Linked DNA regions of Homo sapiens: all the other regions are linked to region 2. Evidence: fine-mapped expression QTL. A gene starts in region 2. Each other region holds a variant in brackets. All regions are shown on one strand. Distances are from middle to middle.

The links. PIP is the estimated chance that this variant, and not a neighbour inherited with it, causes the effect.
Region 1: its variant is the best candidate, but not a certain one, in a credible set for the expression of ALDH1A2 in whole blood (TOPMed, PIP 0.79).
Region 3: its variant is the best candidate, but not a certain one, in a credible set for the expression of ALDH1A2 in tibial artery (GTEx, PIP 0.81).

What each region holds. Positions count from the first base shown.
Region 1 is chr15:58,338,260-58,342,501 of GRCh38, reverse strand. No RefSeq gene overlaps it. Among named protein-coding and RNA genes, the nearest start is that of LIPC, 92 kb to the left of the region's middle. The variant A/G (reference allele first, on the strand shown) is at 2,496.
Region 2 is chr15:58,063,755-58,067,996 of GRCh38, reverse strand. ALDH1A2 (aldehyde dehydrogenase 1 family member A2) reads left to right here and starts at 2,286. Exons shown (of 13, transcript NM_003888.4): 1 at 2,286-2,463. The coding sequence starts at 2,347. ALDH1A2-AS1 (ALDH1A2 antisense RNA 1) reads right to left here and starts at 2,772. Exons shown (of 3, transcript NR_147215.1): 1 at 2,255-2,772; 2 at 1,063-1,182. RefSeq lists a silencer at 1,431-1,620 and enhancers at 2,229-2,748, 2,749-3,268.
Region 3 is chr15:57,921,362-57,925,603 of GRCh38, reverse strand. No RefSeq gene overlaps it. Among named protein-coding and RNA genes, the nearest start is that of ALDH1A2-AS1, 140 kb to the left of the region's middle. The variant G/T (reference allele first, on the strand shown) is at 2,075.

The DNA of each region.
Region 1 (4,242 bases), 270 kb before region 2:
GCATAGGGAAAGGAGATCATTGGGCTGAAAAAAAACATGTAGTCCAATATTTCCTAAACTTTAATGCGCACGTGAATCACCTAGAGTGGAGCCTGAGACCTGCCTTTCCGAACCATGCTGAGGTTCTCCCTGTCAGAGAAGCAAGGAAATAGAGAACCCAAGTTTGGTTTCAAACTCTTAAAGAAAAACAGTGAAATGCTTTCTTCCAACTAAATCTTATATGGGCATCCAACGAGTAAAACATAAAAGTGGAGCCAACCGTGATTGAAGTGAAGGGGGCTGCCAGAAGCCTCATTCAAAATGCTTTTTCTCCCCTCCCAACTCCCGGAACCTCAAGGAAACGCAAGCCCTCGCCCACTGGCTCGGACCTTCTCCCTGCCTCCCACCAGAGCTGCGCCACCTAATACCAGTCACAGTAGTTACTGAGCATTTGATATGTGGCTGGGGTGACTGAGGAACAGAATTATTCATTTTATTTAAATTAATCTAAGTTAAAAGCTGAAGCAGTATCAAATACTTTTCTGTTAAACACAACTTTATTATTTTGGTAGGACAGTTCATTACATCGCCTAAGATCTTGTAGTCAACACAAATACCTCACTGATCTAGTGGGTGTCAGGCAGGTAATTCAGTTTGAATGATTTCTTTCTTTGTATCTGATTTAACTTGTGTTTATTTGAATATTTCATGCAGGCAACATGAGTTACAGTGTAAACTGTAATTAGTAATAAGTTTTGTTAAACTTTTTAACATTATTGCATTTAATTGTAATATCATTAAGTTGGTTTTCTAGTTAAGTATAGATAAAAATTTAAATTAAAAATGAAGACATACTACTGTCATGGAATCTAGTGGAGATGCAGAAGCTAATATTGTGACTGGAACAGTAAAAAAAAGATTGGAGCAAATTTTAGATTTCAGGGCAGTCTCAGTTTGCTATGGCAGAGCAAAATGCAAAAGCTATTATTGTATAAAACATTTAAAAATAATAAAGTGAGTAATATTAAGAGAAATTTGCAGGAAATGCACAGTGAATTTGATAAGAACTTTCCTTTGAATAGCCAAAAAAGAATCAATGAACTCAGACACCTGAAATAAGAAGTAAATGTCCAATAAAATTTTTAAAAATTTTTCAGCATTATCTGAGTGTGTGCCTTTGGTTATCTTTAAAATGGCTTGGATTCTTGAACGAAAATGGAAATCACTTTTAGGTGGACAAAGAGTAAAATAAATTATCTCAGTTATGAAAATTTGTTGGAAATGATAATGGAAAAGACTAAAAATACCATTTTATAAAAAGTGAAAGATCTTCAATTAAGCCACCAAACAGTTGTTAGTAGAATATAAGACCATTTAATAATATCAAAGATAAATTGATTCAAATTTGAAAAACTGCAAGTACTTTTCTCCAGGTTTCGATGAGCTCAGTGATGTAAAAGACACTGTTCAGTTAGCACTTAGACAACTTTCTTCTCAAACGACTTCCAAATTTACAAAGAAATGTGAATTTGTGCCCTAAAAAGTTGAACTCAAGGCATGAATATCTTTGAATCTCTCTATTTTTTTTGCTTCACCTTTCTAATCTTTACTTTCTTCTTCTTTTTTTTTTATTATTACACTTTAAGTTCTAGGGTACATGTGCACAATGTGCAGGTTTGTTACATATGTATACTTATGCCACGTTGGTTTGCTGCACCCATTAATTCGTCATTTACATTAGGTATTTCTCCTAATGCTATCCCTCCTCCAGCCCCCAATCCCCTGACAGGCCACGGTGTGTGACGTTCCCTGCCCTGTGTCCAAGTGTTCTCATTGTTCAATTTCCACCTATGAGTGAGAACATGTGGTGTTTGGTTTTCTGTCCTTGCGTGAATCTCTTATAGCTATCAAAGAAATTCATTTAGATATGAAAAAATTAGCTTCTGTTGTAATTGTGATCTAGTTACATCAGTTTAAAAATGTAGATTTATTAGAATCTTGGAATAAGAGATTGATGTTTCCCTTAATTCTTAATTCCATGATGTAATACGTATTACTGAAACTACATGTGCTCAGTTTTCTGAAGGAGACTATGAAAGCTGTATGGATGCAGTTGTTAAGATTGTTCAGTATATGTGCAAAAGCTATGAATCATCACCAGTCTGTGGAACCACTGAAAGAAATAGAAGATGATGAATTTAACGATCCTGTGTTCTTTGCCAATACTGGTTGATTGAGTCGTGGAAGAGTTTTACAAAGATTTGCTGTACTGTTAGATCCAATTCAAGATTTTCTTGAAACCAAAGGAATACTTGCCAAATAGTCAAAGACACAAAATGGTAATGTGATTTGTGTTTTCTCTTCAATGTTACACTGCATATGAACAAGCTAAATTTGAAGTTTCAAGTAAAGGAACAGCTTATTTGTGACCTAATTAGACAGGCACAAAAATTTATGTTGAAATTGAAGACTTTCATAATTCAAACCAATGATAACAATTTTACATCTTTTTTCTA[A/G]CATAAATCAAGTGCAGAAGATTTAAATTGTAACTGTAAGTACAGGGGCTAGGCGCGTGCCTTATGCTTATAATCCCGAACTTCGGGAGGCTGAAGTGGGAAGACTGCTTGAGACCAGGAGTTCAAGACCAACCTGGACAACGGAGCAAGACTTTGTCTCTACAAAAAAACAGAAACCAAAACCAAAAAAAGAAAAAACAAAAAGAAAAAACAAACAACAACAACAACAAGAAACCCTACCAAAATACCAAAACCACACAACAAACTAGCCAGGCGTAGTGGTGTAGTGGTACATATCCATAGCTCTAGCTACTCAGGAGGCTGAGGCAGGAAGATCCCTTAATTCCAAGAGTTCAAGGCTGCAGTGAGCTATGATTATACCACCACAGTCCAGCCTGGGTGACAAAGCCAGACTCTGTCTCTCTCTACAAAATACAAACAAAAACCTATTAAGAGGGTAGATCTCATGGTAAATGTTCTTGCCACAATAAAACAAAATTTTAAAACCAAAAAAGAAAGTACAGTTGGCCTATATTCTCAGGTTGAACCAGCTTACAATGTCATCTGCAGATTCAATGGACAGTACATAGAAAATATTTGGGAAAGAATAAAAATCACAATACAACAATAAAAAGTAATACAAATTTAAAAACAATACACTGTAAAATAATTATCTGCAAGCATTTTCATTGTATTAGGTATTATAAGTAATGTATCAGTGACTGAAATTATACAGGAGGATGTGTATAGGTTGTATGCAAATACTACTTCATTTTATATCAGGGACTTGGGCAGCCATAGATATTCATATCCTCTGGAGGGTCCTGGAGTACTATGTAAATTGGTTGCAAAAAGTCTCTTTTCTAGAAAAACTGGGAAGACATTTTGTTCATATTGATACATTTAGAATTCTTTTCCTATTTATTTATATATTATTCTTTTGAGTTCATGCCAGTGAGACTGAGCTGACCCAAGAGTTGGTGAATTTACCTAACTTGGACAAAAGTTTATTTAAAATGGGTACACTTTTTCTTCTAAAAAAAGGTGAGCTATTTTGGCCAATGTAGATGCAAATATTAAAATAAAATTGGGTCCAGGCATGGTGGCTCACACCTGTAATCCCAGCACTTTGGGGGGTTGAGGCAGACGGATCATCTGAGTTCAGGAGTTCGAGATCAGTTTGGCCAACATGATGAAACCCCTTCTTTACTAAAAATACAAAAAAATTTAGCAGGGCGTAGTAGTGCATGCCTGTAGTTTCAGCTACTCAGGAGGCTGGAGAATCGCTTGAACCAGCAAGGTGGAGGTTGCAGCCGGCAGACTTCATGCCACTGCACTGCAGCCTGGTCAAGACAGCAAGACTCTGTCTCAAAAAAATAAAAAGAAAAAAATTATTTTTGATGTTTGATTGACTTATTTCGAAACTTTTAAATGTGTTTAGAACACTTTGGTTATATGAATCTATTTTTTAATGGTATATTTTTTAAAATCTAAATACAAATTTAGTATTTCTGATGAAAATTTGGTGTTCAAATCGAGATGTCCTTTAAGTATAAAATAGCCACCAGATTTTGAAGGCTTAATATGAAAGAAAGAATGTAAACTATATTATTAATTGATTTATTATGTTTGATTGTATGTTGAAATAATATTTTGAATATATTGGGTTAAATAAAATATATTATTTAAAGTAATTTTTCTTGTTTCTTCTTACCTTTTTAATGTAGCTATTAGACTACTAGACAAT
Region 2 (4,242 bases):
CTCCCGAGTAGTTAGAATTACACGCACCTGCCACCAGGCCCAGCTAATTTTTGTATTTTTAGTAGAGATGGGGTTTCACCATGTTGGTTAGGCTGGTCTTGAACTCCTGACCTCAAGTGATCCACCCGCCTCGGCCTCCCAAACTGCTGGGATTACAGGCATGAGCCACCGTGCCCAGCCTCTATACCTTTTCTATAGTGTTCTTTTTGCTCTTGTTGAAGCCTCCCTTCTCCCTTAAGACCCAGCCAAAGGTCAGCTTTCCCAGGGAGTAGGCGTCCTCCTTGGAGCACTCAGCTCATGTTGTTATGGCTCTTTTTCATGTTTTCCCCACAGCCTCTCATAACTAGTGATAAGTTTTTCCACAGGTATCACTGTTCCCCCTTGCTGGAACCCTCTCTTTCTCCCCAATGAACTCTAAGATTTTACTTTTTTATTTCTCAATTGTATCTCTAACCTTCTAAGGCTTTGATAAAAGTATATCTTATGAGCATACACTGTTATTAAGTCATAATTTTTGGCCATAGAAATTCCCTGAGTACAGATCCCTCGACTGCCCAAGCTAAGGTCTGTAGTTTCTCCATGAAAACGATTCACCCAGGTCACTTTGGGTTCTGAGAGGCTGGAACTTATTTCTATAAACCTAATACTAAAATGAAATATTTTTGTCTGTTTTCACTATTGCTTAGCATCTGAGCGCTGAGCATTAGGCAGTTTTAGTTACTCAAAGTATCTAAGGAAAGATGTTTTCTGGCTGATGCTTAATGTTTTCTTAACGCCCAAGAAATGGGACTCCAGCGGCTCTAAAAATGGCATTTAAGATGAGAATCAGGCCGGGTGCAGTGGCTCATGCCTATAATCCTAGCACTTTGGGAGGCTGAGGTGGTAGGGTCACTTGAGCCCAGTTCAAGATCACAGTGAGCTGTCACGGTGCCACTGCATTCCAGCCTGAGTGAAGGAGTGAGACCCTGTCTCTTCAAACAAAACAAAAAGACGAGAATCACAGTGTTGCTTGGTAGTGTAGAAAAAGCGTTTATCAACACTGTAGGCCCCTGTCAAGCTTACATTTGGAGTGAGGAGTAAGGAAGGGAAGGGACTTATGCAGGTCTTTCCATGCGGCCTTGATTTAGTCCACGGAGTCCAAAGCCCATTCTGAGGCAGGGTCTCTAGGTTCTTGGTTTACACCTGCAGGCCGATCCACAGACTAGAGGGCAGCTTGTTAGACTTTGGAAACACTTAGATTAGGGGGGAGATGGAAACTCAATCCCAAAGGGACAGTAAAATGAGCCTAAGGTCTGGCGGGACGATAGCTCTTAGCGTGTAAGGAACAACAGAAAAACAAAATAGTGTTTCTGTGGGTGTGCTGGGTGAGGAGGGGAAACAGCCGGAAGAGGGGATCCGAGAAGAACTAAAGGAGCCCACGAAGCATGCAGCTCCTCGGAGGAGCCGGGGATGATCACTGCCCATATCCTCCCGCCACAGCGCAAGCCGCCCGGGCGGTCCCGGCCGGCAGAGGGCAGCAACTGGGCGGGCGACGCCTGGCAAGGGCCGCCCCGCGCTGACCCGCTCGCAGGGATCCTCATTCTGAGCCCGAGGCGAGGGGGACTCGCACCCACTGCCACCTCTCCCTGACCCTCTGGCCACCATGCACCTCGGCCCGGCTGAGGGGAGTCGGGGGGTCGGGGGAGAGGGCGTAGCTGCCGAGAGCCTGGCGCCCCTGCCCGGAGGAGGAGAACGGAGGACGCCCTCCCGGGTCTCCGGAAAGGAAGGGGGACGGGGTTCGGTGGGTCCTGGGACGGGGATGGGAGGGAACGTGGGCGAGCTGGGAGCCGCCCTCCGCAGCCTGGACTTTCCTGGCCTTTCTCTACTCCGAAGCAGCACCGGGCCGCTCCGGTCCCCGCCAGCCCCTGCCAGCTCCGCTTCCGGGGGCCACGACCCTCGCTCGACTTCGGCCGCTGTGCGCCTCCCGCCGACTCTGACCCAGGGACCCGGAGACCAAGTCCGGCTGGCCGAGGCCCGCGGGCCGCGGCGCAAGTTCCGCTCCCACCGTCGAGGACTGTGGAGGCGGCGTGGGCTGGTCTCCGCGGCCGGGGGGCGGGAGCGCCGGGCGGACTTGACCGTGGGCGCCAAGCGTCCCGGCCGCGCGGCGCGGGCTTTATGTAAATGGAGGCTGCGCCGGGCGTCCTAGGTAGGATGGACCAGCCCCCCGCGCCTCGGCCCTCACGTCCAATAAGAAGAGCCCCAGCTTGACACCTGCCTATATACAGGCGAGCGCGCCCCCGGGCCGCGGACCGCGCGCACAGCCCGCACTGCCCCACGCCGCGGGCTAGGGACACCCGGCCCGCCACCATGACTTCCAGCAAGATAGAGATGCCCGGCGAGGTGAAGGCCGACCCCGCCGCCCTCATGGCGTCGCTGCACCTCCTGCCGTCGCCCACGCCCAATCTCGAAATTAAGTACACCAAGGTAAGCGGCCGCCCAGCGCCCGTCGTCCACGGAGACTTTCTAGAACCTTCTTCGGTTTCCCCGATCTCTTCAGCGGGTGAGGGCTGCGGGACGGGGCCGGGGTCGTCGGGGCCAGCCTGTCATCCCGGCGCAGCAGAGGGACCCCCTGCCTGTCTTCGGGACTGGGGCGTTTGAAGCCCCGCCGTGGTCTGAGGACGCCTTGGGGACTTAACCCAACCCGAAGCGCAGCGTTGAGGGGCAGCCGTCAACGGCTCCTGCCCCGGACTCTGAGGCTGGTTTCTGTCCGATTCTCCCGGTCCCGACTGCCGCGGGGGAAGGCGTCGGAACCGCTTAGTATCCTCAGATGGAGGCCGGGGTTCCCCGTCAGCTTGGCCACGCAGCCTGGCCGTCGCCTCTCGGTCCTCCGCCTTCCGGGCCCCTCGGCTGTTGGTCCCAATCAGGTCCTCCACAGCCCGGAGGGTGCTGAGGGGCTTTCCCGTAAGGAATTGTCAAGACACCAGCGCTCTGGCCGGTTTGACAAATTTCACGGAAACCTGACTGATAAGTACAGTAACTCCAACGTCAGCGTTTCATGTGAATTTTGTAGGCAGCGGCAGTTTCCCTGGGAAACTTAAAAAGTTTTAATATTTGTTAGCATGTTCGGTTTTGAACTGAAGAACTTACTTTTTTTTTTTTATAACGAACGTTGACATCTTGGGTTTGCTAAGCAGGATTTTTGTTGTTGCATCGCCTAAAAAAGAATATGCGTCTGCTACCTAATATAAAATGAATTTACTTTCCACAAATTCGACATAGAAAAAAAATGATCGATTACAAACGTAGGGGTATTGTAATGTTACAACATTTTGAGGGAGGTGGTGAGAGAGAGATGGGATTGAAAACCACGTTTCTTGGAGTTCATTTTGTAGTTCTCTGGTTTGATTTTCTAGTCCTTTCGGTACATTTCTACACTCAACTTCTCCCAATTAACGCAAACGCATAGACGCACATGCATATGGTTAAAGGTTGATTAAAGATGTATTCCATCGTGCTTTTTTACAAGATAAATTTTGTAGAGAAGTAAATTGTTTGCATCTGGCTTAGTGGTTGAATGAGATATACAAGAAACAACATCAGAATATTGAGATTTTACTTGCATTGAGTTTTAGGTTACAAATCAGGGCGATTTGTGTTTTGAATGTCGATTTAGATGGATTTAATGTACCTGCTAGCTTTTTTAGATGGTGTGACAAATTTTTCAAAGCCGTTTTAATGAGAGGTCGTTAATGGTTATAACCTTTTAGGCATTGTTTGCATAACAATAGTGCCAATGTGTGGCACTTGTCTGGGTTTAGGAACGAGCAGGGAAAGCATGCAGCTTAGAAGTTTTATTTTATGAGGGTCTCTAACCTCTTCAGGCTCTTTTTAAAGGTCTTAAAATGGAAGATCTACACAGGAGAAAAGACCTAACCCTCAGATTTGGGAAGGTTTGATTTTAGTCTTATTTTTGATGGGATTTTTCTAACAGCCTCTGAAAGAAATTTTAGGTATGCAATAGGTACGTTTTTCAGAATTTAATTTGGAAGCTCTTCCAGTTCTCTTACTCCCTAACTACCCCCTCTCTCTTTTCTCTCTTGTTCTCCCCCAGTAGGAAAGACAACTGATTTATAGCTAATTGGAGCCTTTAATGTGGAGTCTTTTAGCTCGGGGAACTTTTATCCAGTATCCACTTTCCCACTTAATACAAAGAAAAACAATCAGAAATGAAATAATGGATTGTAACTTGATTCTTTAATTTGT
Region 3 (4,242 bases), 140 kb after region 2:
TGACAGGATGGACGATGAGCTGGAAAAAGATGAGACTGGAGGCCTCTTTGACAAAGACATCTATGACGAAGCCCAAGTGAATGGTGATGGGCACCTGACCCAAGACAGCAACAGAGGGGAAAGAGAAAAGTCAGATGTGAGAGCTACTTGCAGAATGCATTTGAAAGAATGAATCTGAGTGGATAAAGATGTCCGAATGGACATCAGGCTAGTGTGTTAATAGGAAAAATTCTGACCCAAGGATTGCTATTTCAGCATCCTGTTTCTCCTTCTCTCTCCTTGCCACCATATGCCCTTGTTTTCTTAGATCCTTTCCTTGTTCTCTTGCTGCTACTTCTTTTTACATTTTATCCATTGAGACTTGAAATGTCATCATTACCATTTAGGTAAGCCACCATCACCATTACCCCATGAATTGCAAGAGCTGAGGCCAAAAACAGAAGCTCAGGAGGCAGGAGGTGGGTCCCTGTTGTACAGCATTTCTCAGTCATAGGAATAACAGAACCACTTGCATATTGCTTCACAGTGTCCACAGTTTTTTACATCTGTGCTTCACTTTCCAACTTGTCTGTAGGAAAGGCAAATTTTATTATTCCCATTTCAGGGAAGAAGGAACTGAGGTGGGTTCATAGCACGCTCTCAGGCAAGCAGTGTCGAGTAGCCCATATACTTGCTGTCCCAATAAACCCAGACTGGTTTCCTCCCTCTGCTTCTAGGACCTTAGGCTGTTACCCAGACACTTGAAGAGTCAATTTCCTTCTCTGAAAATGAGGACAATAAAAGTATCTGCCTCCTGGGATCATTGCACATGCTGAAAGAAATCATGCATATAAAGTGCTTAGCATAGACTTGAAGTCTCTATAAATGTTAGCCATTGCATTTATAGGTCTTCTAGCTCCAAAGTCCCAGCTCATTCTACTGTATCACAGTGTTCCTTGCTTCTGGGAGAGGAGACATTTTTTTCAGAAGGCTGTAGTTTGCCGTACAGGCCACTGAATGGATTTCTGCCTGCTGACAAAAGAAAAAAAATGCCAAAAATGAAGCATGAATATTTCACTGGCCTGGTGTGTCATTCAATAGCCACAACTTATGCCCTGAAGTTATTTAAAATACAAAGTAGGCCGGGAAAGGTGGCTCACGCCTGTAATCCCAGCACTTTGAGAGGCCGACGCGGGCGGATCACAAGGTCAGGAGATCAAGACCATCCTGGCTAACACGGTGAAACCCCATCTTGACTAAAAATACAAAAAATTAGCCAGGTGTGGTGGCACGCACCTGTAGTCCCAGCTACTTGTGTGGCTGAGGCAGGAGAACTGCTTGAACCCGGGAGGCAGAGGTTGCAGTGAGCCAAGACCGTGCCACTGCACTCCAGCCTGGGCAGCTAAGTGAGACTCCATCTCAAAAAAAAAAAAAAAAAAAAAGAAAGAAAGAAAGAAAATACAAAGTAGATAGGTAGGTAGTGTCGATGGAGAGATATGCTAGTTTTTAAAGGTCCACTCCCAGCCCCAATGAAACCTCCTATACTTGGACCAAGTTTAAGTCTGATAGGGTGAAATGTTGACATGGCTATGTGTCTTACAAGGACACCCGCTACTGGGCTTGGGTGGAGTTTTTGGCTTGCATTTCTTGGCAGTTTCAAGTAGAAATTACAATCGGAAGTATCAGGGTGTTTCTGAGATCCTGGCAATGCTGGGTATCTGCATTGGTAACAAAGGCAAGGAGCCAAGCAGTGTGTCCTCCAAGCAGCCACTCACTGACTGGAAGACTTTCTCAAGAAAAACATATTTCCAGTTCCCACATCAGGATCTACTTCTACCTCCTGAGTCTTTTCTACACACTTCTCTCCAGTGCTGATGCTCTATAATGAACGATGTGAAGGTGGTGGGGCATGGGGAGGAGGGCAAAAGGATGGGCATGTTATTTGGGGGCATGATGGGGATGGATATCTTAGGGAAAACAATTAAAGAAGAAAGGAGGAGGGCTTCCACTCTGCCTGGCTGGATGGAATAAATGTTTGAGCAGCATTCTGTCCAGCTGGGGAAAGGCCAAGACTAATTTAACCTTTGGTCAAATG[G/T]TTGGGAGTTAGCTAGTTTCCTTTTTCCTCTTACATCACTCCCAGAGATTCAGACAAAAATAACATGGTCCCGATTACATGACATTATGGGCTCTGAAAATACACCAGGGAGGATAGTGTTGAAACCCCTCAGAGGCAAATTAATCCTAGCAAAGCAACAGCTGTAAGATTGATACAAACAGGAGAAACAACAGCATATTGGTTCCAGGTTTGCTTAAAAGCTTATTTTAATCCAAGCAATTTTTTAAAAGGGTTAAAATCACTAATTGGGAGGGTTTCTGTTACTTAAAAATGGAGCTTTACGAAATACCTCTATATGCTGTTGTCCACTGGCATACTTTTGGATTTAATTCCCAAATTCTCTTTTATATCCTTATTGTTTAAAGCAGAAATAAATGCAATGGTGAGAAAGAGTTTGCCTCTGCTGAATCAGAGCTTCCACACCAGGCCTGTATCGGGGAAGTGAAGGTGTGGGAGTCACCTCTGTCCTGGGCTGCTTGCCCAAATCTGGCAGGCAGGAGCTGGGCACCTGCCCCTCCTCCCTGAGCTGATCCTGTCCAGAGCGGACACTTGAGTGTTTCCTGAAAGCACAGCTTGCAGCCCCTGGAGGACAATCTGCAGAACTTGTATGCACCATTTACACTCAAAAATCAAAATATTTCCTCTCCCCGGGACACAGCAGCCCCCTCCACACCCGCCCACTTTGCAATCGGGCATTACTTGGAGACCCAGTATGAACCCTAGAATAGAAATCTCACAGCTGGAGCAGAACTTAACCAAAAGGAACACACTTTAGGACAAGAGGAAATTGATCATAATGGTTACAGGCATGGTCTCTGTACTCAGGCTGCCTGAATCCAAAGCCAGCTCAGCCCATTGCTGTTTGTGTGACCTTGGGCAATTGCCCCTCTGTGCCTCAGTACCCTTGCATGGGAAATAGAAATAAGAACAGCATCTACACCACAAGGTAGTTGGGAGGATGAATGATACTGTTTGGAAGGTACACAGGCCTAACAAATAACAAGAACAAAACAATCAAGCTGCTCTCCTTGTCAGAACCACAGTGGTCTTGGAGGTCTTAGCAAACTTACTCTAGAAATTCGGTGGTGGCTGATGGATGGCCTCAAGTAATCTTCGGGACTGGGCTAATTTCTAACTCTTCCATCATAAAGGTAAAGACTCTCAGGACAGCAGCCATGTAATCAATGAAGAGTCCCAATGCCAAGTCAGATGAGCAAGCAGAAGAGATCCATGTTTTTCTCTTGGGAACAGAGAAAGTGGTTTGGGCTCTGCTTGGATGGGGGCTAGGGGTTAGTTGCGAGGGAAGAGGGAACAAGCTCATTAACACATAGAAGGCAGATGAGCCATTTGAAGGGAATGCTGAAGCTTGGGAAACACTGCTTCCACGCATCCATCTATCCATTAAGTCATTCAACAGATCTCCATTTAATCTGTGCCTGGTGAATACTGTGCTAAGGTCTATTCATACAGAATGAGCATTGGATAAAGCTTACAGAATAATAGCAGAGATACATTTAAAATTTAATCACATGAATATTTAACTTAAAATTGTGTTTTTTTGTGTTATTTTAAATAATAGAGAACTATGATAGGAAATAATGGGGGGTGGGGGCACAGAAATGATCCCAGGGGACTGAGCAGCTGGAGGTTTGAACCTGTTCCTCATAGTGCCTCCTGGACAGGTCAACAGCCTCATTTCACCAGCTCTGGTCCTTCTTGACTTTGGTCTTGTAAACTATTACCCCTTCTGCCTCGGCAACAACTACCCCCAACCCCACCAATGCCCACTTTCACCTTGGGAATAGGCATTAGATTAGCACTCCACTTTTATTAACATTCTCTCCATGCAGAAACCCAGGCATGGGTGGGAAGTGGTTGTTTGTCAAGTCACACGTCTGGTTGGGACTAGAACTAGGACTCCTGAGTCTGGGATAGTTGCTCCTCCCCTGTACCCTGTGACTCAGAGCTCATATGATGACCCCTCTGGCTGACTTCTTTCCCAAGAAATAATGATGAGGCAAATGTATCTTACACAAACATCTCCTAGAGAAATTCATTTTGGGGCAGCCCTACTGTTGGGGGAAACTTGGTCCTTTCTTGGAGACCCCTGATGTGTTCTGAGGTCCCTCCAGGATCCCATCATATAA